2 separate regions of the Homo sapiens genome follow, and region 1 is linked to region 2. The links come from fine-mapping of genetic effects on gene expression. Tissue or cell type: whole blood. Region 2 holds a variant in brackets; the other region holds the start of a gene. All regions are shown on one strand. Distances are from middle to middle. Region 1 holds the start of HS6ST1 (heparan sulfate 6-O-sulfotransferase 1). Region 2 overlaps HS6ST1 (heparan sulfate 6-O-sulfotransferase 1).

Region 1 (15,405 bases), 25 kb before region 2:
AGAAGTGTAAAGGCCCAACACTAAGGAAACAGTGAAGTAAATTATGGTATGTCCAAAATTGGAAATATTGAGTAGTCAAATATTATGTTTATGAAGTTATTCTTAGCAATTTACGAAAATGCTTGGGATAAAATATTAAGCGAAATAAAGCAAGATTCAACACCATGCATGTGGTGTGCTCTCAACTGCTACATGAACATGCAAAAGAAAAAAGACCAGAAAGAAATAAAAACATCATTAGGAGTTCATTCTAAATAATTAAAGTATAGATGAATGGCATTTTTTCCTTACAACAGTTTTCTACTTCCCTACAGTTTAAATGTTTTCCAGAGTTGATAATTACAAAAAAAAAAAATCCACCTGTTAAAAATTTCAGAAACTGAATACGCTTCAGCTTGCTATTCCACTCTGCCCCAGCCCAGGCCCAGGTGCTACAGTGGGAAATGGGTGCATCTGAAGGGGGCGGGTGACGTGGCTGCAGGGCAGGAATAAAACGGCCACTCTCCTCCCCTGAGCCTAGCTCCTGGAAGGAGGCTTGCCCACTAGCTCCTACAGATTCCAGCCCAGCATAGAGCCAGGCCCAAGCCACCACCCCTGTTCCAGGGACAGGTGGGCAGGTGGAATGGGTGTTCTCAGCCCTAGCTCCATGTCACAATCACTCACAAGCATTTCAAACTTGGTGCCCAGGCCCCCTACAAGAGGCCCCCTACAGACTCTGGCTGGCCCTGGAGCCAGCATTTCAAAGTTATCCATCTGATTCTCTTTGCCCAGGGCCTAGCCCTGCTGGGGAAGTAAAATCCTGGTAAAAGGGGCACAAAAACCAGAGGGCTAGAGATGGCGGAGGATGGTCGGAGGGTGCTTGGACTGGGCCTGTGCCACTTGCCTGAACCTGGGAGCAGGACTGCCCCTCTCATTGGCAGTCCCAGCCAGGGCAGCAAGCCAGACCAGGCCCCACAGGCCAAGGCTGGGAGGCGCAGGCCAGCACTGGGCTGCAGTCACAGGGAGTCTCGGGCGAACAGAGCAGGTGCCTGGACAGGACTGCTCTTCCATCATTCATACCCACCTTTGATGAGTACTGATCAGACGGCAGGTGGGCAGGGCCCACACGGTGCACCCTGTAGGCCTCACAGGGCCAGGAGACTGGCACCGTGATGCCCACTCCCTCCAGACGCAGATGTACTTTTCTTTCTTTCTTTTTTTTTTTTTTGAGACAGAGTTTCACTCTTGTTGCCCAGGCTGGAGTGCAATGGCGCAATCTCGGCTCACCACAACCTCCACCTCCCGGGTTCAAGCGATTCTCCTGCCTCAGCCTCCCAAGTAGCTGAGATTACAGGCATGTGCCACCATGCCCAGCTGATTTTGCATTTTTAGTAGAGACGGGGTTTCTCTATGTTGGTCAGGCTGGTCTCAAACTCCCAACCTCAGGTAATCCGCCCGCCTCGGCCTCCCAAAGTGCTGGGATTACAGGCGGGAGCCACTGCACCTGGTCAGATGTGCTTTTCTTCACGTTAAACTTTTTATTATAACTGTGGGTTTGCACGCAGTTGAGTTCCTTCACCAGTCTCCCCCAGTGGCAAGTGGCTAACATCCTGTGGAAATACAGCACAGTATTTCAAGCAGGCTATAACACGGGGACAGCAGCAACCTTGTTCAGATTTCCCCAGTTCTGCCTGCTCTCATTGGTGTGTGTGTGTTCAGTTCTGTACAACTTGATCACATTGTTTGAAATATGTGAATACACCCATCTCATTTGCATCTCCTGGTCCTGCCACCTCCCTCTTCTGCAGGAGGCATCTTTTTGCCTCAGGCGGCCTGGACTCTCAAGAATGAAAACTCGGCTTTAGAATTCCAAAACCAGGCTTTCTGAGTTTGCACCTGGCCCACGGGCTTGAAAGGCAGACTTTGTTGAGATGAGGATTTTGTAAATCTTTTATCTCTTAATATTTCAAGATAGGAGTAGATGTCCTGGAATACAGAGGTGTCTGTGAGGGGCTCTGTCTGCCCTTAGGAGCCTCTGGGTATAGGCTGCTCTGCAGGGCAGGCCCAGCAGGATAGACACGGTGGAGCAGAGGGGCTGAGTTTGTCCTTCCTGGGTTTCTCTGTGGCAGAAATAGAGCCCAGAGGCTTCTTATGCCTCAAATGGGGATGCAGAGCTTGACTGAGGTATGGGCAGGGGCAGGCTGGCCCCCCCATGGCCCACCGGGGCTGGGCTTTTCCCATGACAGCCAGGTCTGGGGGTTGTGGTAAGGCCCAGAGTCCTGCCAGCTGCAGGCCTGGTGCCTGTGCCCATGGCACGCCAAGCAGGCTCCATCAGCCTCCCTAGCTGGACAGTGGCCAGCTCACACCGGGGCCAGCCGCTGCCTATGAACCTCGCCCTTTGCTCTTGCTTTGGGGCCCTCTGGGACTCCCAAAGAATTCAGATCTCGGAAGACCACACATTCTCTTGGGGTGTGTGAGTAGGGACCAAGCAGCCTTGAGACAGGGCCCGAGGGTGACCTGAAGCTAGAAAGCAGAGGGCAGCACTAGCAGGGAAAGCCTGTGTTGTCCTGGGTTGGCTTTTGGTGCTCCGCTGGAGAGGGCAGGCTGCAGCAGGGACAGGCACGTGCTGCCAGCCGTGGAAGCCGGAGACTCCGGGTAAGGGCAGGAATTGGCTCACTGTGCTACCCTCTCTACTTCTGTGTGAATTTAAACTCTTCGTAAACAAAAGTCAAGAAATCAAATAGAGCCTAACAATTATTGGATCAGACTGGGATTACAGGATGGAAGTAATACAGGTTTTCTCTGCCACACAGTGGGATGGGCTCTCAAGAAGATGGGAGCAGATAAAAAGAAAAAGCTATGATTGAGTTCTGGTCTGGACAAGGAGGTATAGACCCATTTCTCCAGCTCCCCTCTTCTAAGCTCAGCTACAAACCCTGGAAATGGCACCAGAGATAGAGTCAAAGGAGGGCGTGGAAAGATGGAAGAGGAAGGTAAGCGCGTCAAGACCCTAGGACAGGAGGAACAGCCCAGCAGCAGGGCACCTTACAACCCCACCCGGCAGGAGGACGTGGTCCAGGCCGGGCTGGGGGCTGGGGGCTAGGCTCTGCCCAGGAGCCCAGGACTTGGGTTTCTCCAAGGGCTGGGAGTCGGGAAATGGGAAGGTGGAGAGGACCCTCAACCAAGGCTCTCACCAGGGAGGGGACACTGTCCCCTTGGCCAAGTCACTATCCTCTGCTCAGCCTCAGCTCCCTGACCTGAGAAATGAGGGAATTATGCCCATAGGGCAGCCGAGAGCACTGAATACAATCATGCACAGAGGAGGCCAGCGCACAGGAGGGCCTGGCACACAGGAGAAGCCGAGTAGCTGGTTTTGAATATGCGGATGCTGATAGGGTGCTTCCCACAAATCGACAGTAGGAATACCTAGCCCTTGGCGTAGACAGGGCTGTGGAATAAGCGTTTGCTTGCTTATTGCTTACCATGACCCTATGAAGTAGGTCCCATTATTATCCTCACTTTACAGATGAGGAAACCAAGGCTCAGAGAGGTTAAGTAACTTGGTGAAGGCCACACAGCTGGTTAGACAGAGCTGGGGTGTGAACATAGCACCTTTACTCCTAATGATAATGTTTAACTTTGTTTTCCTACAACTGAGGCTGAGACCTTCCTCCTTGGCCCCCAGCCCAGGTGGTCCCTCCAGGGACCAGCCTGAGGGTAGGAGGAGTGTCCCAACCCCAGTCACCCAAAAGCCAAAGTCAAGGGCAAAACACGTACCAGGAGGCCCTCACCCGGCCCAAGGCTGGTCAAGACTGCATGGCAGTCACGACGGTATAGACGTGGGTGGCATTGGTGTGGACTCCCTTCTCCAGCCCCCTTACCTGAGGGGTGCCTCTCCCAGCCTCGCGGCCTCAGCTGAGCACCCACTGGCTCTGTGACCTTGGCAAGTGGCCTCATGTCCCTGGGGCTCAGCCTCCCCATCTGTAAGGAGAGGCCCACAGAGCTGCTGTTGGATTATAAGAGATGTGACTGACAAGGGCTCAGCACGCAGACCTTGCCCATAGGGTGATTATTGTTGTCAAAGACACAGCCTGAGGCCCTGGGTGGAGCACAGCCTCCAGCCCAGCAGGTGTGAGCCATACCCCATCCCGTCTGCTGACAGAAATGTGCCTCCCTCTTTTCTGCTGGCCTGAACAGCACCACAGCACTTGTCACCAGCCCAGGCCTTCAGCCAGGTGGACGACCTGGTGTACCACACACCCATGGTGTGACCCTGTCCCTGGATGCTCTGAGAATAGAGGAGATGCTGTTGCTGCCCCATAGGCCCTGGGCCCAGAGAAGGACGCAGACTCCTCCCACCAGGAGCCAAGGTTACCCTCCCCCAACCCTGAGTGTCTAATTCCCACGAACTCTCCTTCTTAAAGGAGGGCAGGGAGAGAAACGAACAGCAAGAACCATAGCTATTTGGTGCAAAAAGAAACGTGGTCACTGAGAGATTCCAGGAAGTGTCAAGGCCAGCCAGGTTTACCGCTGCCGTGCTGAGCCCTGGCCTAGGGACAGGTGAGCCCCCTCCCCACAGTGCCACAGGGGCGGGCAGGGCCTGCTCCATAAAGCCATCATTGTGTCCCACCTCTGTGCCCCCACCCAGGGCCCGGGTCCCACCAAGGCCCTGGGGCCCTGCCCAAGAAGAAGCTTCCATCAGAACAGTCAACTGACTTGTCAAGCCAACTGTAATCTAGCAAGAGGGCGACTCTTTAATAGCAGTGGCGATGAATGGAGGTAAAAAGAGCAGGACCTGGTGACGAGGAGCATGGGGGCCGGCCATCATCCTCCAGGAAGGGCACTGGCACCAAGTGAATTCCACAGACAGAGGGGTGGCCAGTCCAGCCAGCAGAGAGTGGAGCAGAGTGGGAGCTGGTCCCGAGCCCCAACGATCAGGCAAGGCTGCCTGGAGGGCACTGACCATGCCCTTCTAGGCATCAGGGCCCAGGACTGAGGCCACCTTCTTCCACCTGTGCCCCGGCCCCTGGTGGCTTAGGCAGCTGGGGTGGGAGCAGCAAGCACCCCATGGTTGAGTGACTTTTCTCGGACTAGAACATTTCACCCTCAAAAGAGCCGCCATCCACCCCACCCCACCCCCAGGGAACATCCCCAACAGTGGAGCTTGTCAAGCTGCTCAGTGCCCTCTCTGGTGGCTCCCCCGACCCGGCCGAGTCGGAACCCCTCTGGGCAGTGAATGACAGCCATCTGGGAGGAGACCCACTGGCCACCGGAAGCTGCGAGCAGTCACCCCCCACCCCATCCAGGCTGTGATCCCGCCTCCACCCTAGTCGTCTAAAGACATGTCCCTTGGGAAGTTTCAAGCAGAAGAACCAGGACGATGCCCTTGGGGCAACGTTACCAGGTCCCTGTCCTGCCTCCCAAGCTGGCAGAACCCGCCAGGCCTGCCCACAGTCCCGCTGCCCGGGGAGGAGGGTGGGCTCCACTGGACAGACTCCGAATCCCGGCCAGGCAGCAGTCCAAGCCCCCCACTTGCCAACAACCCCACGTCACACGCGAGGGCAGGGGGCCAGCCAGGGGGAGGTCACCGAGCCAGCAGGGCGGGGGGGGCGGGCAAGGGCCGGGGAAGCCCAGGACCACGCTGCCCCTACGAATTGCTCAGGTTCTCCTCTTCTGTTTATCCTACCCTCTTCCCCTAAGGACTGAAGCGGGCCTGGAGGGCCTAGAGAAAGGGCACAAAGAACAGCGAGGCCCTGGGCGGGCGTGGAGGGAGGGGAATGGCCCTTCCGAAGCCCCGGGCCTCTTCCAGCGCGGTCCTCGAACCGAACCGCAGGACCCCTGCTGTCCCCGGGCAGCGGCCGGAGCGCGTCCCTCGGGTCCTGGGAAGACCTGCCGCGTCTGCGGGCTGCCTGGGAGCCCAGGCGCCCCGCGGTGCTGGGGGAGGAGCCCGGCACGGGGCCGCTGGGCGGCAAAGGGGCCGCGGGCTCCCTGGAGGAGGCGGCTGCGGACGGGGCCTGGCGACCTCGGAGAAGGTGGCGTCCACGGCGCGCAGCCCGGCGCCCCAAGCCTGCCGCCGGGTCGGGGTCGGGGCCGGGGCCGGGCCCCGCGGGTCCGCGCGAGCCGGAGTCCCCTCTAAAAGTTTGTCCCCAAACGAAACCCCTCTCTCTGCCCCGCGTGGGCAGCGGGGCCAGCCCCACGGGAGGCTCTGAGGACAGACACGACTGCCCTCCTCCACCCCTTGGCAAACAACAATGGGCGGCCGCCGGACGAACGACGAGGGAAGCGAGTGTGGAAAATCCCCCAATTTTTTGCAAAGTCAACCGCGGGCGCTCGGGGGCCGGGCCGCGTGCTGCCCCCGCGCGGCCGTCCGCGGGACTGTGCGCCGGGAGGGGGCGCCGCTGTTGATCTCGTGGTTCTCAGACTCTGAGACCGCACGGTGGGCCGGGAATGAGGCTTCATTCCTGAAGCCGAATGTTAATGCCTCTTCTGGGATCATCACAGCCTGCCACTAAGCCGTGTTCTTTTACTTTTCTTTGCCATTAAGTCAGAGATCACGCATTAAAGAATTGGTGAAGTGGATCTTCAGGGGACAAAGCCACTGAGCAGAAGAGCTGCCAGTGCTTTTCCTTGGACCCCACAAGCAGTCAGGGCCAGAAGCTGCCCCTAGCAAACACTTAGCTCATATGCACTCTCGGGGCTGGGGCAAACCTTGGCCACGCAGGAGATCACCCAGGGAAGAAAGGAAACAGCGCGCAGAGCGCGCCTCCTGAGACCCTGGCTGTGTCCGCTGACCTCCTGGAACCCCACGCCAGCCCCAGACTGTGCGTTTCTATCCATTTTCCAAGACATGACACTGAGGACTCATCGCGGGGAGTAGCGGGAAGTGGTGGGGAGTAGCGTGATGCAAGCTGCCCCGCCAACGAGGGCTCGAGCTGCCTTCCACTCGGCTCAAGTGTCCACTGATTGATGGGTGGCTCATCTGACTTGACTTTCAGAGCCCAGAAACTCACCTACAGCCTTAGGGTCTCAGGTGCCTGTGCAGGGCTTCAATCAAAGTGGAAGACTGAGCAAAGTCCTGTAGCCAGCCAGGCAGATTTCCCTCCTCTTAAAAGAATTCTAGAAAGAAAGGGCTTCCTGGCTAATGTGAGTGCTTCCCATCAGCCAGTGTGGCAGGTATGAAGTTGGATTAAATAGCTTGTTCTGGGAGATGTTGCTCCATGGGTCAGGCTGCTCTGGCTCCCATTCAAGGGTGGGACCTTATCACAGGCACTTCGTCCCTGCCTGGGCCTCAGTTTCCCCCTTGGGACAGTGAGATCATCACAGGGTGGAGCCATGGCCCAAGTACCGATGGCTTCGTTGGCCTTCGGAGCTGCTCCAGCTTTCCCTTGAACACTCTGGGCCCACGTTCCCCCTTGGTGGCAGTGACGGTCACCAGGCTCTCAGGAGTGGCCCCTGTAGACGCTCTCATCCCTGGCCTAGGGAGCTGGGGCAAGTGCAGAGGTGGGGAAGGGGAGGGTTCTGGGGCTCACAGCAGGAATCAGGATCCCAGCTCTGCTGACTCTCATGGGGTGAGAGTGGTTGACCTTGGAACCAGGGTCTTAACCCCTTTGAACCTCAGTTTTCTCTTCTGTAAATGGATATCACAGCCTACCCCCGCAGATTTGCTGATGGAATTGGAAATGACACCTCTACAATGCCTGGCACCCAGCAGGTCTCCAAAAGAGCAGCCTTAATTATGATGTAGCACGAGGATCCTTATCTGGGTAAGGACATCTGGGGGGTGGACCCGGGGCAGCTGTGCTCCCCTAGGCCACACAGGAAGGCTCCCCAGGGCTCAGGCACAGACTGCGTCAAGGGGCTGCAGGCAGGTCCAAGCACACTGCAGGGCGGCCCCACCTGTGTCCCATGGGGACTGCACCCCCACTCCTATAGGAATGAGTCACTTCTGGAGAAGCTTGTCCAAGCTGCCCCCAGGACCCTCGGGCCAGGGACAGTTTTAAAGCAGCCTACAAGATGAGCAGGGGCTTTGGGGCCCTAGGTCCCACTGAGGACCCCACACCATGGACTCCAGGGTGCGCTGGGCTGTGTTGAGGGTTCTGCACCCGCCTGTCCACAGCGGATATTCTTGCGGTCCCTTTGGAAAATGCATGCCGCCCGCTCAGCTGGGTTTGGGGTGTTGGTTTTTCCAGCTCTCTGGGTTTGCTTCCAGGAGGGCTTTCTGGTGTGATGTTGTCTACGTTTAACAGCTTTACTGAGGCATAATTGACACCCCATGATCGCTTCCGGTCCCTAACAGAACGGAAGGCAGGGCACCACCCCGCCTCCCCCCCCACCCCGTCCCCGGCAGGGCTTGACGTGGACACTGGGAGCCCACGCCTGGCAGCCAGACTCGCTCCCAGAGCCCTCGCTGGCCTGAACCAACACACTAGGGCCCACCGCGGCCGGCCCTGCAGCTGTGAGATCCTGGCAGGTCCCAGCCCCACTCCTGCGCTTCCGACGGGCTGCAGCCTCCGAGTACTGCCAGAGCCCAAGCAGTGTGAGTGGGCACCTGGCGGGACCCCCCGCCCCACGAATGCCGCGCGTGCTTGCCAGGCTGGGCGGCGGCGAGTGAGGAGCCCGCACCACCCGGCCCACACACGAGCCAACGTGGAGCGAGCCCTCCGCAGCCAGGTTGGGCCCGGGCCGCTGGACTCTCCAACCAACCCACGAAAGACAGAATATTTGGTGGGCACTCACGATTCTTAAGAATTGGCTCAATGTTTTATAACTCTTTCATTGGAGTATAATAAACATGGATGGGGGAAAATGCACCTCGTCTGATATTCTTTTCAAACAAGGAGGAAGCCATAAAGCCGCTCCGCAGGCCTCTGCAGACAGCCCAACATCTCTTCAATGCGGGGCTGCGGGGCACTGTCCCAAAGCCAGCCGCAGGGGTGAGGGGGTCGAGCAGGAAAGGAAAGCCTCGCTTTCCCTCTCGGTCCTGGTGGTGGGCGGCCCCCGCCGCCCTGGTCCCTGGAAGTGCAGCCCAGTAGGCTAGCGTCTAACTTCAGCGCCCCAGCGTGCAAGGTCAAGGCCTTTCCTCCCGCGCGGGCTGCGGGGACGTGGGCGGCTGGGACTTGGGGAGGAGGGGGTACGGACCCAGGCTCCAGAAGCGCCAGCCGCCGCGCCCCCTCACCGCGGCCCCCGCCAGGAGAGCCTCCCACGCCTCGGCTCCGCACTGCCGGTTGGTCCCCCACTCCCCTGAGGGCGGAATCACTTCCCAGTCGCTGGCTGCCCGCCTGCTAGCGGCCTCGCCACCGCAGCAGACCCAGGTCCCGCGCCCAGCACCCGCGGCGAACCCCGGCACTCCGGAGGCGGGGCCGAGGATCGGCGCGGGCGGCGACGGCAAGAGACGCCACGGGGGCGGGCCAGGGGCGGACCGGGGCGGGGCGGCGGCGGCGGACTGCGGAGACGCGGCGGCGCGCGGGGCGGCGCAGAGCGTTCTCGGCGCGGAGTGGAGCGGAGCGGGCTGGTGCTGGGGGCGCGGAGAGCGCTGTGCTGGCCGGGGCCGGGAGCGGGGCCGAGCGGGAGCGGAGTCGGGCGTCGGGCCCGGGGAGCCGGGGCCGGGCGGGGAGCAGCCATGGCACCGCGGAGGGTCGGGGCCCGCGCCGCTGCGGGCGGCCTGGGCGCCGAGTAGCCGGGCCGGGCCGGAGCGCGGGCGGCGGCGGAGGCAGCTGCGCCCGCGCCTCCTGCCCTCCCAGGCCCCGCGCCCCGCGCCCGGGCCCCGGCGATGGTGACACATGCGGCGGCGGCGCGCCGGCGGCAGGACCATGGTTGAGCGCGCCAGCAAGTTCGTGCTGGTGGTGGCGGGCTCGGTGTGCTTCATGCTCATCTTGTACCAGTACGCGGGCCCAGGACTGAGCCTGGGCGCGCCCGGCGGCCGCGCGCCGCCCGACGACCTGGACCTGTTCCCCACACCCGACCCCCACTACGAGAAGAAGTACTACTTCCCGGTCCGCGAGCTGGAGCGCTCGCTGCGCTTCGACATGAAGGGCGACGACGTGATCGTCTTCCTGCACATCCAGAAGACGGGCGGCACCACCTTCGGCCGCCACCTCGTGCAGAACGTACGCCTCGAGGTGCCGTGCGACTGCCGGCCCGGCCAGAAGAAGTGCACCTGCTACCGGCCCAACCGCCGCGAGACTTGGCTCTTCTCCCGCTTCTCCACCGGCTGGAGCTGCGGGCTGCACGCCGACTGGACCGAGCTCACCAACTGCGTGCCCGGCGTGCTGGACCGCCGCGACTCCGCCGCGCTGCGCACGCCCAGGTGAGCGCCCGGGCGGCGGGATCCTCGCGCAGCTGCGCCCCCGAGGCCGGGCCGTATGCCCGCCGTGCTGTACTGGGTCGGCCCTGCCTTCCCTACCCCCTTCTGCCCTCTTGGGGGCCCCCACTCGCCGGCACCCCTCCCGACCTGCCGAGCGCCCGAGGCTCCCAGCTCCTCTGGGTGAGCCGGCTGTCACCGCGCTTTCTGACCTCGCTCTCACTCTCTTCCTTGCCTTGTGCTGCCCTACTGCCGGCTTGACTGCGCAGCGCCCGGGTTTTCTCCAGGGTCCCCGCCCGCTGCCCTCGGGCCACCTTACCTGCTGTGCGCCGTGAGGTCTGGCCCGCCGGACTTGGGGACGCGGGCTTCTGGGTGTGTGCGTGGCCTACCTGGAGTGTTGGCTTCCCCGTGCCGCTTCGGTGCTGTGGTCCCAAAAGTGGAAGTGAGAGTAGTGAGGTGCCGCCCCTGTGCCTGGAGTGCCTGCCTTCAGAGGGTGGGGGAGCTGCCAGGGAAGGGGGCTGGCTCTGCCCGCCTGCCTGCCGGTGTGTGCAGGTAGAACAAAGGCCCTGTTGACCTGGGGCTGGGGGCGGGGAGGAGGCAGTACCGCCTGTCCTCCCAGTGGGGCCTGCCAGCCGAATTCTTCCAGGCACAGGCTTGCCTGGAGAGAGGAACAAAAGCCACCCGATGGGGGACCACCTTCCCCAGGAAGCTACCAGCCAGGTTGGGGGTAGTTGAGCTGGTCCAGGGAACCTGTGCTGCCACACCCCTTCTCTGGGGTCCCCCAGCCCCATGTCAGAGCTGAGCTGCGTGAGGACACAGAGCATGGGAGGGGTGCCGGGGCAGCTCTTCTGGGAAGCCGTTTGTAGGGGAACCTGGGGTGCTGCTGGGTTTCCAGCAGTTAAAGTTGGGGTTATTTTCCTCCTGTTCCTGTTGGTGCCCATTCGTCCTGCAGGGATGCCCTGCGGGGCCTTTCTCCCCAAAGTCTGGGCTGGGAAGGGCCAGGAGCAGGGCTTCTTGTCTGCCTTTTGTTTCTCTTCCAAATTTGCCTTAGGACTGAATTTGCAGACAGGCTGGTGGTAGGAGGCTGGGCGGTTGTAGGCGTGTTGGCTGGCACTCTTGGGTCCAGAGGCTGTAGGCTCTCAGGTGTGCCTGGGGAGCCTGGAAGGTCCAGCCAGCCTGGAGCTGAGCAGAGTCCGAGACACTGCTCCCCTGCACAGACCTCAATCCTTGCTCTGTGGTCTTTCTCAGGCTGTCAGGAAATTGGGGTCCTAGAGTTGGAGGGGCATCTTCCCACTTTTCTTTCTCCCCCCTCCCCCAACTGTACACACACACACCCACACACACACACACACTGCAGCTCCCAGCCTGGGAGGTGATGTTCTGAGCCTCTTACAGCCACATTCTACACTTGGCGGTCACAGAGCTGCCTGTCTAGGGCCCCTGAAGGATTGCTTCCGGCCCAGCACTTAGTCTGCTCTGCACAGATGCACGTTCCTGCTGCAGGGCCCCCCTAACCCTGGTCCAGCTTCTCTGTGCTAGGCTCAGCTGTGCCTGGGACCACAGCCATGCCCCCACCCACCCTTCCACCAGTCAGAGCAGTAGGCTCCCAGAGTTGGTCACTGACCAATACCAACAGACGCCTCCCTACCTGTGGGGGGTGCAAGGATGGGGGTCACCCCCTTTGCCAGAGGGACTTAGCTCGGCAGCCTAAGAGGATTGCGTGGAAGCTTCGGGCCGCCAAGAAGCCGGAGCTTTTGAAACAAGCCTGCTCAGCAGAGGCCACCTCAGCCCTAGATTGCAACCAGGATGCTCTTCCTGCAGCCCCGCACGCCTGTGGGTCCCCAGGGTGAAGAGCCTTGGCCTCCTTTCTCTGGAGTTTGTCCATGAGAGTGGGAGGACCAGGTGGGGCCGATGGGGCCCCAGGTGCTACACCAGGAAGGCCCGGCTCCCCCTGCCCAGGGAGCATGTGTGGAGCAAGAATGGAAAACGCAGATGCCTCTGGCGGAGGTGGGCTGCCAGCCTGGAAATTGCTAGCTCAGCAGCATGCGCCAGGGTTGGGAGGGGCTTCCAGGGCCGTCAGGAGGCCCCCTCTGCCACCCACTCTGGAAGTGGGTTGTGCTACCGGGCAGGTGACAGCACCCCACCCTCCGAGTCCCTCTTCTCCGCCTCCACTCCCTTCAGTTCTGTTGCAGGCACTAGGTAGATTGCTTTTTTAATGAGCTTCATCAGGAGGCCAAGGTAATCTTGCCTTTGTGCTCGCAGGGCCAAGCTGCACTGAGGTCCACCTGCTGAGCGCTGCCCCGCCACCTGAGTCTTCTGGCCCAGGCTGGAGCTGGGCTAAGCTGCTCTGCTGTGGCGGTTGGGATGCACTTCCCCCATCTGCCCAGGGACCCAGCAACTCTCTATCAGGGGCAGTGCCCATCCCTGCTGGGGTGCCTCATGTTAAGTGGGCTTGGTGTCAGGAGACTCAGGTGTCACCCTGGCCCTCCTGCGATGTCTTCACTCTGGCTCTGCACTGCCATCTCCGTGTTCTCTGGGGACTGAGACCCTCTTTTCCTTCTATCTCTGCCTGCCTCCCTGCCCAAGGCTGGCTCCTGGAACCTCTCCACCAAGCCCCTCCCATTCCCTGCTGCGGTTTGGGAGGGTCTCAGTGGGCCTGTGGTGCGCGTAAGAGAGGTGGGGCTCTTCCCGGCTGCCAGCCTCCCCATTGCACAGTATCAGCCTGGGCTGCTCTGAGCTGGGCATCCATGGAGATGGACAGGTTTTTGATGTCTTCCTGGAATATGGTTTGGAACTTCTAGTGGCTGTTAGTGCTTGGCTGCCTTGGTAGAAAGGAACAAGAGTGAGCAGAGCATTGGCGGGTCCCTGTTTAGTCCTGTGTTCACCATGGGGGCTGCCTCATCTGCCGACATCAGCCAGGGTGCTTGTAAGACTCCACTGGAAGGACGTTTGCTGGCTGGCCTTAAAGAGGTGTGGCCATCCCCAGGCAGCAGCCAAATGGCCAGCCATTCCAGGGACCACTCGGTTAGAATGTCTCAGCACCCCACACTCCGCTGTCACTCAGAGGGTCCAGATGGTGCTCCAGAGCCAGAACCTCCCTCCTTCCTCTTCCCGTCTGCCTGAAGGCAACGCAAGAACAGGCATGGTCAAGGTCTTGCCCGGGCCACCCTGGAAATGTCCCTGAAATCATGTGGGCTTCATTTGGGGCCACGGAGGGCATCTGGAGCCCAAGTGTGGCATCTGGGCCACCTTGGCCGGGAACCCGGGACCAGCTCACATCCTCTCTGCACCAGGGCCTCTCTGGAGCCCTTAGTGGGCTCGCAGCCTCTGTGACGTTGCCCTGCAGAGACCAGTGCTTCCTTGCTGGAGGGATGGCGCAGGAGCCCGCAGCCTCGCCTTTGACCTGCCCTCCGTGATCCTGAAGCCTTCTCAGACTCCAGAAATCCGCCTGGTGCTGGACCTGTGTGCCGTCCACCTGGTGTGCCTGCTCTCCTCTCCCACTTTTCTGCCTGCTCCTCCCCTCCCTTCAGTCTGCTCAGATGCCCCTTCCTCCAGGAAATCTTCCCTGGCTTTCTGTTCCTAGGCTCCCCTGTTGCCTTAGGCGCCTCGACTGCTGTCCCATCTGACACCGTGCCACCTTGGCACTGCCCTCATGCTGGCACCATGGGAATTTTTTTTTCCTGGACTCTGCAGGATCTGGGCTCTGTCCCTGCCCTTTCCCTGTGACTCAGGTTCACGGAGTCAGTCTTGAGTGTCATGGTGTTCCCTGAGAACCTGGGGACTCCTTGGTGGGGCAGACCAGGTAGGGGTGGGCTTGGATGAGAGCCTTCGTTTCTGTGGCATGCGACAGTTTCCACCTTACCTTCATAATCGCTTTCTTCTTTGAGATCAAGGGAGAAACCCTCATCTGCTGTGATGGGGACAGATGTTACCCAGAGCATGTGACTGGGGCCAATGAACAGGACCTGGGGACCAGGCTGGGGGTGTCACTGTGCCTACATTGCCTAGAGAGGCCTTTGGTTAAGATGAGAAGGGAATCTGTGGTCAAGATGCTCCTAGATTTTCACTAAAAATAGATAAAAAATCCTTTTTTTTTTTTTTTAAGCAAACACATGATAAGGCAAACTTACGAATGGTTGGGTGACAGGATCGTTTTAGATGGTCCTCTAGCTTGGGGGATCATTTCTGCCATGCTGCTCTGGTGGTCTTCAAGCCACAGCTTCCTGTCCTAGGCACTTCACGCATAAAACTGGGGCCTGGGGACTCCTGCTCCTGGATCAGAGAGCCCAGTCCCAGAGAGTGCAGTGCCCACCTTGGTCCCTAGGGCCAGGGAATCCAGGTTTCTTTCTCAGCAGGAGTTCTGGCTGCCACACGGGGGAGTGGCCACCTTGGGTCTGGCATCCTCCAGGGCCCAGGAGGGAGGAGGAGAAGGGGCCTGGTCTTGTCGTCCTTCGGGGAGTTGGAGGCTTTTGCTCTCACACCCCGCTTTGTTGTGGTTATAATGATTGTTTGGTAGATGAGTGGGAGGAAAGTATGAGGCAGAGGGAGAAAAGGAAAATCATCCATTCCCCATGCATGGTTTTTCCACTGTAATTGAAGCCATCATATAAATTTCACCATAAATGTTGTCTGTTGTCATTAAAAACTTAATATTTGAGTGGCTGCAGCTGCTCCGCTCTGAGTGTGCCACCGCTGGTTGGCAGTGGGTGAGTGCGCAGGTTGCTCATTCTGTACTCTGTGGGGACTGCTGCAGGACTGCTCCTTGTGTGTAAATGTTCTGCATAGCTCTGATTTCCTCTGGAGATTCCTAGGAGTGGAATTTCTGAGTTGAATAGTCTGAATGTCTTTACTGCTCTTGGTACAAATGTTACCTTCCTCTTCAGAACACCCACTCCTGGTATGCTCCCACCTGTGGTCTGTGAGCACCCATGTCAGTGGCACACTCATTGGTACTGAATAGCATGTGAATTTTTTTTTTGAGATGGAGTCTCACTCTGTCCGGTGCAGTCTGGACAATGATGGCACGATCTCAGCTCACTGCAACCTCTGCCTACCAGTTTCAAGCGATTGTCCGACCTCAGCCTCCCACGTAGCTGGGATTACAGGTGCCCGTCACTACACTTGGC
Region 2 (15,405 bases):
TGTCCTCAGCCCTCAGGGTGGCCCCATGGGTGTTGTGCTGTTAGGGTCAGGGTCAGCCTGCTCCCAGCTCCTCTGCATGGCCCCGTGTCCCTGAGCACTTCACATGCCCTCCTGGCCCTGCCTTTACTGTCCTCTGTGATGCTGCAAAGCACCTCTTGGCTGCATGTTTGGTCTGCATCTTGGGGCATCCTTTCAGAGAACGTCGAGAGTGGAGGTGTCCTGGCTGTGTGCCTCGCCCTTGGGCATCAGGGGTGGGGCAGGCCCAGGCCCCAGAAAAGCCTGGCATTTCCTCCTGGGAATGGGCAGCAGGTCGGATGTGTGGGCCTGGCTCCTGGGGTTTAGACTGTGGGGGACCAGAGAAACATGTGGTCAGCACTTTGGAGGAACACACAGGGAGGGGTGAGGACAGGAGGGCGTTGCAGGCAGAAGATGCCGTGAGCAAGGACCTCAAGGGCAGGCCGTCGGGGGAGAAGAGGCTGGAGCAGCTGAGAGGCCAGGCCTTGCCCTGTACAGAGCAGGGAACTGGCCGGCTGTCTTCCCAAAAGAGGCCTTGGGAGGGTGGACTCAGATGGGGGCCGTTGCGGAAGAGGCCCCACCACAGAGCCGTTGGAATGGAAGACCTAGCCACAATGGGAGACCTAGCCTCAAGGGCTGGGCCTGAATCAGGAAATGCCTTGAAGCCCCGTGGTGGCAGGGGCTTGGTGGGGAGCATCCCAAGTGCAGCTTGAGGGAGTGAGGGGAGGGGAGCCAGCCACCAGGCACAGGAGTAGCAGGGGGTTTGGGAGGGAGCCACCATGTCAAGGAGCCACTCAGTCACCAGCACCTGCGTGCAGAGCTATTCCTGGGCCCCAAGAGAGGACTGGGTCCACCCTTGGGGAACCGTTAGCCCTACACCTAGAGGAGCTGCAGATGGTCACAGGGCTGGGGCTGGGAGGGAGTGGATCAGATGGGAGTGTCTTCAGCTGGATGCTTAGTGAGAGAGTCCCACACATGCACTCCCACATGTGAACACACCACGTACACATCAGTAAACATGCAGACACACATGCACGCCAGCCTTGGCTGCACAGCTCCAGCTCAGCCTGACCCATGTGTGCTGCCCATGGCATTCTTTGACCTCAAGGTCCCCAGTTTAGCAGGCGGCCAGTGAGTCATGGGGCCTGAGACCAGGTATCCTCCCCTAGTTACACCTCTCAGACTCCCTGAGGCAGCAGCGCCAGCTTGGAGCACAGCACCTGGCCAGAAGTCCCCATGCACAGCCTCCACTCTGGTCACACTGAGCAGTGACACCTACTGCCTCAGGGTGTCCTGAGGGATGGGACTGGCTTCAGGGCTCTGGCGGGAATGTCTTCTCATTGGGGCATGACTTTATCCAGGGAGAGGAGCTGGCGGCACCATGGAGAGCCCAGTCCTCTGCCTTCCCTCCCCTCAGGCCAAGCTGGAGCCTCTGAGCTGTTCCCACTAGGGAGACACCGGCCAGCATGGTGTCCCTGACTGTCTGGCAGCCGTGATGCCTGCGTGAGCCAGTGGGGCCCAGGAACACATGCTGCCCGATGTCCATGAGTGCCGGGGACCCCATGGAGGCTGGGCCCAGCGGGCAGGATCAGCTGCAGGCTTCAAACCAGCACACATGTACCCCTGAGGGTGAGAGGCTGGAGAACTCCCAGGGTTGACCAGGGGCTGACAAAGCACGCACGCTCTCCCACACACGCACGCTCACGCTCATATACACACATCCCCAGCAGTAGCTCATGCTTTGGCGCCAGTGGTGACTCAGAAACATTCTGGAACAAGAATTCCTTTTTTCCTTACAAGTGGTTGGCACTTGGGGATGTTTCTTCGTATTTGAAATTCCTTCCCACTGGTCCCTTTAAGAGCTGAGCAATTTTCCATTCTGAGCTGGGCTGCTCTTCCATCCTGAGCTCTCAGAAGTCTTTGAAATGGTCCCAGGATATTAGAGGAGATGCTTTTCCAAAGACGATCTGCTGTCATTGCAGACACAGGAAGGGTAGCCTGGAGCCACATGGCCCCTGGGAACCCCTGCCTGACACACAGGGCGCAGGAGCCATGCAGCCCCTGGGGATCTCTGCCCAACACAGAGGGGTACAGGAGCCATGCAGCCCTGCCTCACACAGAGGGGTGGCTAGAGCTACGCAGCCCCCGGGAACCCCTGCCCCTCACAGAGGAGTGGCTAGAGCCATGCAGCCCCCGGCGACCCCAGTCCCACACAGAGGGGCGGCTAGAGCTACGCAGCCCCCAGAAACCCCTGCCCCTCACAGAGGGAGGGAAGGCTGGTTTCTATAGACCATTCAGGAGGCTGTTGCTGCATGTACCCAAGCAGCCAAAAGCCCAGACTCCTCAAACTTTGTGACCCAGGGCTCCCATTCCTTTCTTTTGCCCTCCCCAGCTAATGACAATGACAGAGGCACTCATTTCTTAGGCATGTGCCATTGCACCCACCCCCACCACACACAGCACACGGTGGCGGCTCTCCCTTGAGAAAGATACTGGCGGAGGCTCAGACGGGGTGTGGGGCTAGCTGCTCTGGAGGGTGAGACACGCCCAGAGCAGCTGGGAGGAGGGTCTGCCCTAGGCATCTCATGGATTGACTGTGGGCACAGCTGGCATGGCAGGGGCCCTGGGTGTGGCCAGGTGATGCTGCCGGGCAGAAGTTGGGCCCAGTCCTGGGCATCCTCGTCCTCCACCTGCGTAACTCAAGGTGGTCCGCCCACCCTGCCCTTAGTTACAGCCTCCCCCGAAGAGATTAATTACAACAGGTGCTAGACAGACAGTCCTATGGGGGTCCCAGCTGTCCCTCCCTACTTGCTGGGAGAGGGACTGGAGCTGCTCAGCTTCAGGGCCCAAGAACCCAGAGATACCCCCGTGCACACAGCGCCCCAGGTAGACACCTCCGCGAACACACGGCCCCCTTGACGTGGCCCAGGTGCAGGGCTGGGGGCAGGCGTACTGTGGAAGCCACACCTGGTCACCAGCATGGCCCAAGGCGGCGCTGGTTTGGGAGAGGGTGGGTGGTCCCCCCCTCTTCTCCAGTGTCCCATCCCTGCCAGGGTCCAGGTAGGGATGGTAGCTGTGTCCTGGGGCTGCAGGCCCTCTCCGGAGGGCAGGCTCCGCTGTGTGGGCCTCCTGCACAGCCTCGTCCATGCCAGCTATGCCCTCAGCTTAATGCCGTGGGTTGGGGATGGGCCTGTAGTTCTGGTTGCAGGAGCTTGGAGTGTGCTTGGAACTTTGGAGAAGCCCCCCATTTTACAGAGGAAGCCGCTGGGGTCCTTGGTTTGGTGAATTCAGCAGTATAAGCAGAGTGTCACCCGGGTCCAGGCCTGACTCTCCCATGCTGCCCCAGCCTGGGCTTCACAAGACAATCTGAGTGCTGATGGGAAGCGGCTGGCAAGACCCCGGCCTGGAGGTGGGGTAGCCCTCTGCCCACCAGAGCCACCCTGCCTTGCTGGCGCTGGTGTTTGTGCTGCCACAAGCTGTGTTTCCTCCGTCTGCTCAGAGCCCAGGGGTCTGCTGCCCTCGCCAGCACCCCCAGCCTCCGCCTGGCAGATGGGCTGTGTTAGCAGGGCCGGGATGGGGGAGGGGTTATGAGCCTCTCAGCCACAGCTCCCTACCCTGTGTGCCTCTGTCTCTCCGCCAGCTGGGGTCTTTCCAGGCAGGCCTGGCCCACTGTGATTACCCTCTGTGCCCCAGCTTTCTGCCGGGGGCCTGGCACAGGTCACGCGTGGCCTTCAAAGACAGAGATCCACTGTGCTCCTCACCGGCTTGTGAGCTCTCTGCTTCAGTTTCCTCATCCACCACATGGGGCTGGGCCTCAATGTGCCTTCAGCTGCTGCTGTGGCTCTTCCTCATTGGGCCTGGAGTGTCCAGCGTAGGGGTCTGGAGGATAGGGCATGACCTGCCATCCACTCAGTTTCCCCACATGTCACACTGAGACTGGGGCCAGCAGAGCCTCAGCAGCATAATTTGCAATCTGTGTTGTGTTGACCTCTTATAGTTTGCTAAGAGTGGGCCGGCCAGGGCAGAGGGCTCGCTCCTGCTGATGGGCCTGTGTCCAAGGGTGCAGCTGTGGCCTCAGTTTGCTCCTTTGGAGGACGGGAGAGCAGAACACCACCTCCCATGCTGTTGGGGTGCGTCGGGGAGTTGTGGTGCAGAGCAAGGAGGGAGCTGTGTGCTCTCTGCTGCATGGCAGGAGGCAGGCACTTGCGAAGCCTGCTCTGTCCCTGCAAAGAACAGAAACTGGGTCCTTGGCTAGGTCACACCTCGGCCCTGGGCCACGTCCAGGTGTGTTTCTGCCCCATCTGAGGCCGATTCTGGTGCCCTTGGCCTCTGGTCCTCTCATTCCGAGAGCCGAGGAGTACCCCACACAGTCATGCAGGAGGGAGAGGGAGTGAGGGGTGGGTTAGGCCTGGGCCAGCCCCACTGGTGGGCCCAGGGTGGCCGCGCCCAGGGACGTGCTGCTTTCCCTCCTGAGAAGCTGTTGGGACTTGGCTCTTGAGGACACTCGTTGTGGGAAAGCCTTTTTTTGTTTTTTATTGTGGTGAAGTATGCATAACATAAAATTTACCATTCTAACCATTTTTGAGTGTACAGTTCAGTGGCATGAAGTACATTCACATTGTACAGTCATCACCATCATCCGTCTCCAGAACTTTTTCATCTTCCCAAACTGAGCTCTGACCCCATTAAACACGAACTCCTCATTCCCCTCCCTCCAGCCTCTCACGCCGTCCATCCTACTTCCTGACTATGAATTTGGCTACTCTAGATAGCGGATTTAAGTGGAATTATATGATACTGTCTTTTCACGACTGGCTTAGCATAATGTCTTTAAGGTTCATCCATATTTTATCCTGTGTCAGAATCGCCTTCCTTTTTAGGGCTGAGTAATACTCCATCGTCTATATGTACCATATTTTGCTCATCATCCCTTCATCTGTCAGTGGACTCTTGGCTGCTCCCTTCTTGCTATTGTGAATGATGCTGCTGGGAACATGGGTGTACAAATATCTGTTTAAGTCTCTGCTTTTAGATTGTTTGGGAATATATCTAAAAGAGGAATTGCTAGATCATATGGTAATTCTGTATCTCATTTTTTTTGAGAAACCACCATACTGCTTTCTACAGTAGCTGTACCATTTTACCTTCCCACCAGCACTGCAGAAGGGTTCCAGTTTCTCTACATCCTTGCTAACATTTCTTCCTGTTTTTTGATAATAGCCAGTCTGATGGATGTGAAGTGGAATCTCATTGTGGTATTGATTTGCATTTCCCTAATGGCTAACGATGTTCATCTTATATCTGCTTGTTGGCCATTGGTCTGTCTTCTTTGGGGAAATGTCTACTCAAATGTCGCACATTTTTTAATTGGGTTGTTAAGTTATAGGAGTTCTTTATATATTCTGGATATTAATCTCTTATCAGATATATGATTTACAAATATTTTCTTCCATTCTGTGGGTTGCGTTTCACTCTGTTGATACTATCCTTTGATGCACAAATATTTTCAATTTTTTGTTTTGTTTTGTTTTTGAAACAGAGTTTCACTCTTGTTGCCCAGGCTGTAGTGCAATGGTGTCATCTCGGCTCACCGCAACCTCTGCTTCCCAGGTTCAAGCGATTCTCGTGCCTCAGCCTCCTGAGTCGCTGGGATTACAGGCATGTGCCACCACGCCCAGCTAATTTCTGTATTTTTAGTAGAGACGGGGTTTCTCCATGTTGGTCAGGCTGGTCTCGAACTCCTGACCTCATGATCAGGTGGATCACCCACCTCGGCCTCCCAAAGTGCTAGAATTATAGGCATAAGCCACCATGCCCAGCCTAAATGTTTTTAATTTTGATGAAGCCCAATTAATCTAGCTTTTCTTTTGTTACCTGTGTTTGGATGTCATATTCAAGAGATCATTGCCAAATCTAGTATCATAAAGCTTTTTTCCTGTGTTCTAAGAGTTGACAGTTTTAGGTCTTACCATTGGTCATTAATCCATTTTGAGTTAATTTCTATGTATAATGTTAGATAAGGGTCCAATTTCCTTCTTTTACATGTGGAAATCCAGTTTCCCCAGCACCATTTGTTGAAAAGAGTGTGTTTTCCCCATTGAATGGTCTTGGCACCATTTGACCATATATGCAAGGGTTGATTTCTGGGCTCTTTATCGTATTCCATTGGTCTATATGCCTATCTTTATGACAGTACCACACTGATTTGACTACCATAGCTTTGTAGTTAAGTTTTGAAATCAGGAAATGGGAGTCCAACTTTGTTTTGTATTTGTTTTGGTTTGGGGTTTTTTTTGTTTGTTTTTGAGACAGGGTCTCGCTTTGTCATCCAGGCTAAGGTGCAGTGATGTGAACCTGGCTCACTGCAGCCTTAACCTCCCAGGCTCAAACAATCCTCCCTCATTGGCCTCCCAAAGTGCTGGGATTACAGACATGAGCCATTCTTTTTTGTCAAGTACTTTAGCTATTCAAAATCCCTTGAAATTTCATATGAATTTTAGGTTAAGTTACTCTATTTATGCAGCAAATACTGTTGGGGTTGTGATAGGGATTTCATTAAATCTGTAGATTACATGAGTAGTATTTACATCTTAATGATAGTAGGTCTTTCAGTTCATGGACATGGGATGATTTTCCATTTACTGGGGTTGTCTTTAATTTCTTTCATCAGTGTTTTGTAGTTTTTAGTTTACAAGTATTTCACTTCATTGGTTAAGTCTCCTCCTAAATATTTTACACTTTCTGATGCCAACAAAAACATAATTGTTTTGTTAATTTCCTTCTTGTATTGTTTGTTGCTAGTGAATAGAAATACAACTGATTTCTTTTAATTTTTACTTTAACAACATTGTTAAGTTAGTTTATTAGCTCTAACAGGTTTTTGTGTGTGGAAGTGGATTCTTTAGCATTATCTACATATAAGATTATGTCATCTGAGAAGAGAGATAACTTTCCTTTTTTCTTTCCAATCTGAATACCTTTTACTTATTTTTCTTACCTGATTGCTCAGGCTAGAACTTCCGGTACTCTGATGAATAGCTGTGGCAAAAGTAGACATCTTTGCCTTGTTCCCAAAGTAGAGGAAAGCTTTTGGTGTTTCACCATTGAATATGATGTTAACTGTGAGTTTTTCATATCTGGCTGTCTTAGCTCAGCCTCTATTACAAACACTATAGCCTGGGTGGCTCAAGCAGCAAGTGTTTATTTCTCACAGTTCTTGAGACCCAAGTCCCAGATGAAGGAGCCAGCAGATGTGGAACTGGTGAGGGCTTGTTGCCTGTCTTGTATCCCCTGCATCTCCCATGGCCAAGAGAGAAGAAATCATCTCTCATGTCTTCTCTTATGAAGCCACTGGTCCCATTCATTATGGCTCCACCCTCATGACCTAATTACCTCTCAGAGTCGCCACCTCCAAATGCCATCACGTTGGAGATTAGGACTTCAACATGAGTTTTGGTGGAACACACACATTCAGTCCATAGCAATGGCCTTTATTACACTGAGGTAGTTTCCTTCTGGTTCTAGTTTGTTGAAAGTTTTTATTATGCAGGTGCATTGAATTTTGTCAAATGATGTTTCTGCATCAGTTGAGATGATCATGTGTTTTTTTCCTTCATTCTGTTAATGTGGCATACTACATTGATTTTCATATTTTGAACCATCCTTTCATTCTAGGGATAAATCTCACTTGGTCATGATACATAATCATTTTTATATGCTGTTCAATTCAATTTGCAAGTATTTTGCTGAGGATATTTTCATCAGTATTTATAAAGGACATCAGTGTGTAATTTTCTTGTTATATCTTTGTCTGGCTTTGATATCAGGATAATACTGACCTCATAGAATGAGTTAGGAAGTATTCTTTTCACTTCAGATTTTTGGAAAAGTTTGGGAAAGATTTGTGTTAGTCCCAGGAGAGCCTCTCAGGTCCCAGCATGTGCTGGGAGCCTAGTCACAAGCCCTGGCAGTCAAGGGTGTGGACACCCAGGCAGCTGCCTAGCTGTGTGGCCCTGAGCAAGGGCCTTCACCTCACTGTGCCTGACTCCTCAACTATAAACGGAGAGGAGTGGTACCCCCTGCCCTGAAGTGGAGAGAAGAATGGTACCCATTGCCCTGGAGTGAGGAGAGAACCAAATGAGCCAGTATGGGTGTGCCCAGCACAGGGGAGGCAGCAAGGATGCTGCCTGTGCCATCAGCCGGCAACATCTCACGGTGTTCACAGTAGCCCTTCAGGACAGAGGGACCCAGGGCTCAGAGGGCACTGGATCTGCGCATGGTCACTCAGTTGCTGGTTCCTCACTGGGCACATCCAGACCCCTCTGCCTTCAGACTCCTGCATTTCTGCCTTGCCACACAGGAAAACCAAGAGGGGGAGGTGGTTTGGAGTAGGTCATGGGGCCCACTGAGCCTTGGGTATCCTGGCAACTGCTTCTTATTTTCCTTGTTCCTTGGAGCCTCTCTGGGGGTGCTAGGGCTGTGTCCATGGAGAATCAGCACAAATGTGCCTGAAGGAAGGAGTTTCAGGAAGCAGGAGGCTCCAGGGCCTGCCCACCCAGGCTGACACCCCTGTACCTTGTGGGCCACAGTCAGGAAATCCCAGAGCCTGGGTGTGGGAGGGTGGTCCGAAGACCTCTTTTGTCTCCCCCTCCACACACACACACACACACACACACACACACACACACACACACACGCCTCCCTTCTTTGCGGTGGAGCCTCTTTACTGCCCAGTAGCCCACCTTCTTCTCCCAGCTCTCCAGGCCCCAGAGCACTTGTCCTCAGAGGGGCCGCAGCTCCCAGGTGGGAGTGTGACAGCGTCTCCATCCTACCTGGGCCACCAACCTATTGAAACTGGTGTCATCTTAAGGACAGCCAGCGCCTCTTGACTCTGACAGGCTGCCCCAGGGTGAACAAGTTTCTAAAGGTGGCAAGTCCCACCTACCCAGTAGACAGGCTGAGAACAAAGGAAGACCCAAGCACTAGCAAGGAGAGCCCTCCCCTCCCTCGGGGACTGCGGCACTTCATGGGCAGGGCCCGGGGCCCTCCATCACAGCCCACCCCGCCCTGTGCCCCCTCTGATGCAGTAGAGTCAGTGAATTGTCACTAGCCTGGTGCAGGCCATCCAGAGCACAGTGCCAGGGCCGGGCACAGGGCGTGTATGACAGAAGAGCCATGTGGGGTCTCAGGAGGAGGCTGTCAAGTCCAGGCTCAGAAGCTGTGATGTGAAGGACAGTGCTTCATGGAGTTTGGGGCAGGTTTCCAGCAGAGGGTCTGGGCCAGCAGGGCAGGTGCAGAGAGGAGAGGGCAGGGCCCTGCCCTCAAGGAGGTACAGAGCCAAGCCTACTGGCTTCGGGACCCACATGGTGCCCCTGTGTCCCTGCAGCGTGGTCTCAGCATGGACCCCCAACCTGTGGTGAAACCATTGCCCTGGGATGTTCAGCAGGACTGGGTCAGCTTCTGCCTGGCTCAGCATGGCCATTCCACACTTAGAGGCTGACCACAGGACTAACTGGATCCTATGTGGCCACAGACCCTGCTCACATAGCACTGGCCTTCTGAGCTGGTGGTTAATCCAACCTTCCTCATCCCCCAGAGGACCCCCAAAACAGGTGCTTGGTATAAATGTAACTCGCCTTCCTTCACTGGTGACCTGAGGCCACCTGATGGTCTCTCTTTGCCCTCTGTCCCCGTGGGCCCCAAAGAATCTGGGAGCATGTTCCTCCTCTGACTCCGGGCCCTCCAGGCCATACCAGCCCCTGGTTTTGCTAAACATCCCCCAAAGCTGTGGCCCCGGGAAGCGCCCCTCGGACCATGGTCTGCTGCTGCTCTCCTTCCAACTTCGAAGGTCCCCTCCCGTCCTGGGGTATGAGGAACAGTGGTTTCTGGGAAATCTGGAGCCACCCCAGTGTTTGCAAGGAAAGTGCCCAGCAGGTGGTGGCAGCCGCCACAGTTACTCCTCAGACTAGCTTTACTCATGGCTTTAGGGAGTGACGGTCATGCTTCATTCCAGGCCTCAAAGCCTTAGCCATTCCCAGGCCTTGCTCTGCCCAGGCCCAGGCTGGCCCTTGGGCAGGCTTATGGGGAGCCAGGCCAGAAGAGGAGAAAAGCGCCATATTGTGTGACATGCCCCTGGCTCAGAGCGGGCTGTGCCTGGGAGCGGTGCCCTTCCGCAGGAGACAGGGTGTGCGGGTGGGACGCTGGAGTGCCTGGCTGGTTTGGGCCCCACTGCATGCAGAGCAAGGCCCAGCCTTTGGGGAGGGAGGCCTGGTGTGGCGGAGCAGAGCAGGGACCAGCTCCACCAGGCCCATGGGTGGAACCACACAGGCTGTGGGCAGCGGGGGGCTGCAGCCACGGCAAGGACCCCAGACCCAGGGTGGTCTCCAGGGCTCTTTTGCAGTAGGAGTGGCAACAGAGTTGGGGAGGCTGACAAGTGGGAGGCCTGCCTAGGCTCTCCCCGACCGCTGCCTTCCCCCACACCCCATGTCTCAGGTGCCCTCCTGTGAGTCGAGCCGTCTTTTCCAGCAGGAGCCCGTCAGCTGATAGCACCCCTGCCTGCCCTTCCTGCTGCCCTTGTTCCTCTGCCC[G/A]CCCCCATGGCCTTGTGAGTCACCGCCCCTCCCCTCCGCCCCATTCCCCCCGTGCCATTTGCCCTGGCCTGCTGCACACTGAATGCCCTGAATCTGGAGCCACTGCACAGGGCACTGCCCTCCCGGCTTCCCACAGCCCTTGCTGGGCTGTCCCTGCCCACTCACATGCCCACATGCCACAGCCTCCCCGTGAGCCTGGCCGCCCTCCCTGAGGCAGGGGTGGGCCCACCACCACCCTCCACATCCTCGCCGGGATGCCTGGCTGGTTCCTTCCAGCTTCTGGGAAGCAAGGTCCCAGAGCGCCGGGGTGAGGAGCACAGTCTTCTCCAGTACGTGTCTCGCCCCGGGTTGTTCTGTGTCCAGACTGGTGTGGGCGTCCCTGCCCTGAGAAGGTGTTGGGTGGGTAGCTGGGCGTGGAACACAGGGCCCACCTTACCTCCTCAGGAGCCCAGCCACAGTTAAAGCCGCTCCAAGCCAGGGTCCTGCCAGGCGTGGGCCCTATGGAAGGATACACATGGTGTGAGCAGGCCCAGACTGCCTGGCATGGACCCTCTGGGGATCCCTCTCCCCACACCTTCACCAGGTGGTCTCTGTGGCACTGAGAGGGCCTAGAGCTGGGCAGGGCCAGGAATCCCTGGCACTCTTGCTGGGCCCAGCCCCCCCGGCCTCAGTTCACCCTCCTCACTGTTGCCCTGTGCCGCCTCCCCTGCCGGCTCCATCCAGGCCCCTCTCCTGGCATCCAGGGGCCTTCTCCTGAGCCGGACCCTTCCCCACACAGCCACCCTAGGATGGAGGAGCTTGGCAGGGTCTCCCCTGGCGTTGAGAAGAGTGTGCATTCAGAGGAGCCTGTCAGCCCTGAGCAGGGAGGGTGTTGGACGGAAGGAATGGAGGGCAAGAAGCACCTATAGGGAAGCCTGTGTATGCCCTTGGGGAAGAGCCTGTGGACAGATGCCCGCCGGCGCCCCTGCACAGCTGTTAGCCACATCCTTGCTGGGTTGCCTCCGTGAGGTCTGTCCAGGGCCTCCCCGTGGAAAGAGGAGGGGCCAAGTGATGGAAAGCAGCAGGACTGGTATGAGGCAACAAGAGCCCCAGGCTGGAGAGGCCAGGCCAGGTGAGGCACACAGCCTGTGCCCTGGCTCCCTTGAGGTCCACCTTGCCCCAGGCATGGCGTCAGCCTGTGGAGGACCCAGGTCCTGCAGCCAGGGGCTCTCCCTCAGGCCCTGGTGAGCTCATTTAGAAGCCAGCTGCTCCCGCTGACGCACCTTCTGAGCTCACCCAGTGCCTGGGGCCCTCCCTGCCAGAGGTCTAGCCCCCAAGAGACACAGTGAGGATCCAGACTGAGGAGGCTAATGCTTCCTTCTGCTGCTCCAGTGCCATGGCCGCCCCAAACCTCCAGGACTCACACCTCACTGAGCGCAAACCCACAGCCTTAACTATGGGGTGCTCTGGACCCAGGGCAAGGGCAGTGGGCAAGAAAAGTAGCCCTCCCCCATGCCGGGACTCCGGCTGTCTGAGAGGGTGTGTGAAGCCCCCAGCCTAGTAATGCCTGCACGGGGTACTCACTAAAGACAAGAAGGACAGGCAAGGGGACTCTACTGGGACAGTTAGGTCCCTAGTTCCTCCTTGTTTTATTGTGTCAGCTGAGATCCCCAGTACATGCAGAATTGCCTTAGAGAGAGTGGACATCTTTGTCTTATTCATGATCTTAGAGGGAATGCATCTGACTCTTCCCCATGGGGACCATGCTTGCTCTAGGTTTTGGGGATACTTTATCAAATTAAGGAACTTTTTTTTTTAATTTGAGACAGTTTCACTCTTTTGCCCAGGCTGGAGTGCTATGACACGATCTCCGCTCACTGCAACCTCCACTTCCTGGGTTCAAGTGATTCTTACGCCTCAGCCTCTTTATAGGTGCGTGCCATCATGCATGCTAAATTTTTTTTTTTTTTTTTTTTTTTTTTTTGTATTTTTAGTAGAGACGGTGTTTCGCCATGTTGGCAAGGCTGGTCTTGAACTCCTGACCTCAAGTCATCCACCTGCCTCAGCCTCCCAAAGTGCTGGGATTACAAGTGTGAGCTACCACGCCTGGCCAAATTAAGGGACTTCTATTCCTAGTTTCCTGAGAGTTTTTATTATGAATAGTGTTTTTAGCAGATGCTTCTTACACATTTACTGAGCTCTGTAGTCTGTTGCTGTGATGAGTCACATGTATGGATTTTCTCCTGTTAAGCCATCCTTGCATACCTGGGGTTACTAAGTATGGTCGTAGTGTAATATCTTTTATATGCTCAATTGGGTTGGATTTGATAAGATTTTTGTTGAGGAATTTTTGTATCTATATTTGAACTCTGAGCTTAGCAGATGTGTCCACCAGGCTGCAATTTTCCTCTCTTGTGCATTTGTCCAACTTCGGTATTAGGATTATGTTGGCCTCATAGAATGAATTGGGAGTGTCCACTGCTTTACTCTTGTCTAGGAGGGTTTGCTTACAAAAATCTGGTTCTTTTAAAATTTGGTAGAAATAGCCCAGCACTTTCTTTGTAGGAATTTTACCCCTAACTTTTTATCTTGAAAAATGTCAAACTTACAAAGTCGTTGAAATGGTAGTAAAGTGAACCTCATACCTTTCACCGAGACCCACTGCTTGTTAACATTTTGCAATATTTGTGCTTGTGAGTGGGTGCTCTCACTTGCTGTTTACATATATGTATATCTGTAGATACATGTGTACTTACATGTATATTTATATATGTAGTTATATACATGCTTTTGCATTTTAGTAGAATCATTTGAATGTAAGCTGCAGGCATTTCCTCAATATTTTAGGAAGATTTTAAACTACTGCTTTGATTTTTGCTTTTTGAGATTATCGGGCTATTTGTGACTTATATTTGGACATTTTATACAAATAATTTGACTGACAGCTATCCTCTCTCTATCTCTTACATGTTCTCCTGGTGCCTCTGGCCTGTGGTTGGTGAAAGCAGGTAGGTCTGTTCCGGCAGCTTCCTCTCTTTCCCTGCCAGCTGGGGTGGGCCCATCCTCATGCCGAGCGTCATGCTGTGACCTCCAGGAGGCATATTGTCTTGTTTTGTGCAAGGAGGAAACAGATGACAGATGCATTCCTTGGGGAACTCGTCAGGGCCACACAGCTGCTGGATGGCAGATCCCTTAGCAAGCTGGAGACCTGTTTTCTGGTGCTGCCAATGGCGCGCCGGGTTCTCCTGGGAGCTTCGTGCTGCTCATCTCAGGGACCGTGCACGTGGGTGAGCAGCAGACATGCCTTGTGGCCTATGAAGTCAGACACCTCTGGTATCTGGGAGACTTTGGCTGCAGAAGGATCTCTGAGTCTCCATTTGCCCATCTGCAGGGGGATCTAATAGTGGCGACCGTACCGGGGTTGCAGGAATAAAATGAGCAAATGCCTGCTGGGCCCTAACCTTTTTTGGAGGCACCAACCACAGAAGTGCTTGATGGGGGGCCATAAAATGGCTGGTTCTGGAGAGTCAGCATTCCCGAGTCCCCAGGGTCACTGCTCAGGTGACAGCTTTCTCAGTGCATCACCCGGAGCTGTCGCCCTCCTTGTAAGTAGAGCCAGGGCCATGGGAGTATAGAGTTGGATACTGCAGTTAGCTTGGGCACAGAATGGCTTATCTCTGGGGTGGGCTGTTTAGGCTCTGAATTTCCCTGTCTGGGGAAGAATAGTCTACATTCAAGAGCATGCAAGGCCATCTCTCCGCGGCCGCCTCTGTGTTTATATGGACTCGGGGGTTGAGGGAGCAGGTGTCAGCCCCTCTTCGCTGCAGAGAGGCTCTGTGGGGTCGTGGGTGAGAACCAGGACTTTGCCTCGGACCCTGACATGAGTTGCTGTGGGGTCAGCAGGAGGTGGAGCCTGGAGGGGTCCCAGGGACACCCCCAGTGATCCTCAGATGAGCTCTCGCCCTCCTGACCCCGAGAAAGGCTGATTACTGGTGATGATCCTGTGGCTTTGGAGATGTCCTGAGAGGCTGCTGGGGAGGCCCTGAGCCTCCCAGGCCTCCCTGACTCTCCTACCTCCTGTGAGAAAGTCAGATTAGATTGTTTTGTTTGTTTGTTTGTTTTCTAATACATGCATGGTTATATAAAATCGGAAAAATACAGAAAAAGTAAAAGAAAAAATGGCCCAGGGCACTAGGCCCAGGGCACCTGGCGCGGGTTGCATTTCTGCTCCATCTCTCCAGTTGATGTGTTTTCCAGAGTTGGCATCAGGCTGTACCCACAAGCTTTGATGTGGCTCTTTTGCCCATTGTGCACACAGATATGAGCTTCTGTGTTAATGCAGAGTCCCCAGAAGGGCTGTGCTTTTCTACTGCCATGGAGTCACCGGGCGTAGGTATCAAGTCGTGCTGGCTGGCCTCAGGGCCCTGAGCACTTTCTCACCTGGCAGGGACAGTTTCATAGCAGGGTACAAATACTGCACACCCCGGCAGGACCTGACGCTGCCGCCAGCCTCCCTCTCGGGCCTCCACGTCTCTCTTGGTGGGCCCAAGCAGCCATGGTGGATGTGTAGTTACAGGCTGTAAGGAAGAGGAAGGGCCACGTGAGTCCTCGCAATAGCCTCAGCAAAAGGCCTAGAAGCAGAAGGAGTGAGCCCCAGAGCTCTTGGCCAGGACAAGAGGAGGCCATGGCTCTGGAGACAGGTCTCAGGCCGAGCCAGCCCGCCCCTAGTCAGCTGCCCTGCTGCTCGACTGCGTGCCCTGTGAAGAAGCAGGGCACTGTCACCTTCTCCTGACCCCAAGGTATGAGTGTGTGCGTTCAGGCATAA

Evidence for each region.
Region 1: it holds the start of HS6ST1, and the variant in region 2 is fine-mapped to the expression of HS6ST1 in whole blood (TOPMed, PIP 0.99).

The regions. Positions count from the first base shown.
Region 1 is chr2:128,312,917-128,328,321 of GRCh38, reverse strand. HS6ST1 (heparan sulfate 6-O-sulfotransferase 1) reads left to right here and starts at 9,454. Exons shown (of 2, transcript NM_004807.3): 1 at 9,454-10,285. The coding sequence starts at 9,759. RefSeq lists enhancers at 4,487-5,419, 11,447-11,596 and silencers at 5,886-6,095, 6,136-6,455, 9,112-9,521, 10,216-10,445.
Region 2 is chr2:128,287,977-128,303,381 of GRCh38, reverse strand. The region is part of intron 1 of HS6ST1 (heparan sulfate 6-O-sulfotransferase 1); the gene reads left to right. Among named protein-coding and RNA genes, the nearest start is that of HS6ST1, 23 kb to the left of the region's middle. RefSeq lists enhancers at 31-110, 1,645-2,243, 2,244-2,841, 2,842-3,440, 7,712-8,261 and 1 more. The variant G/A (reference allele first, on the strand shown) is at 10,602.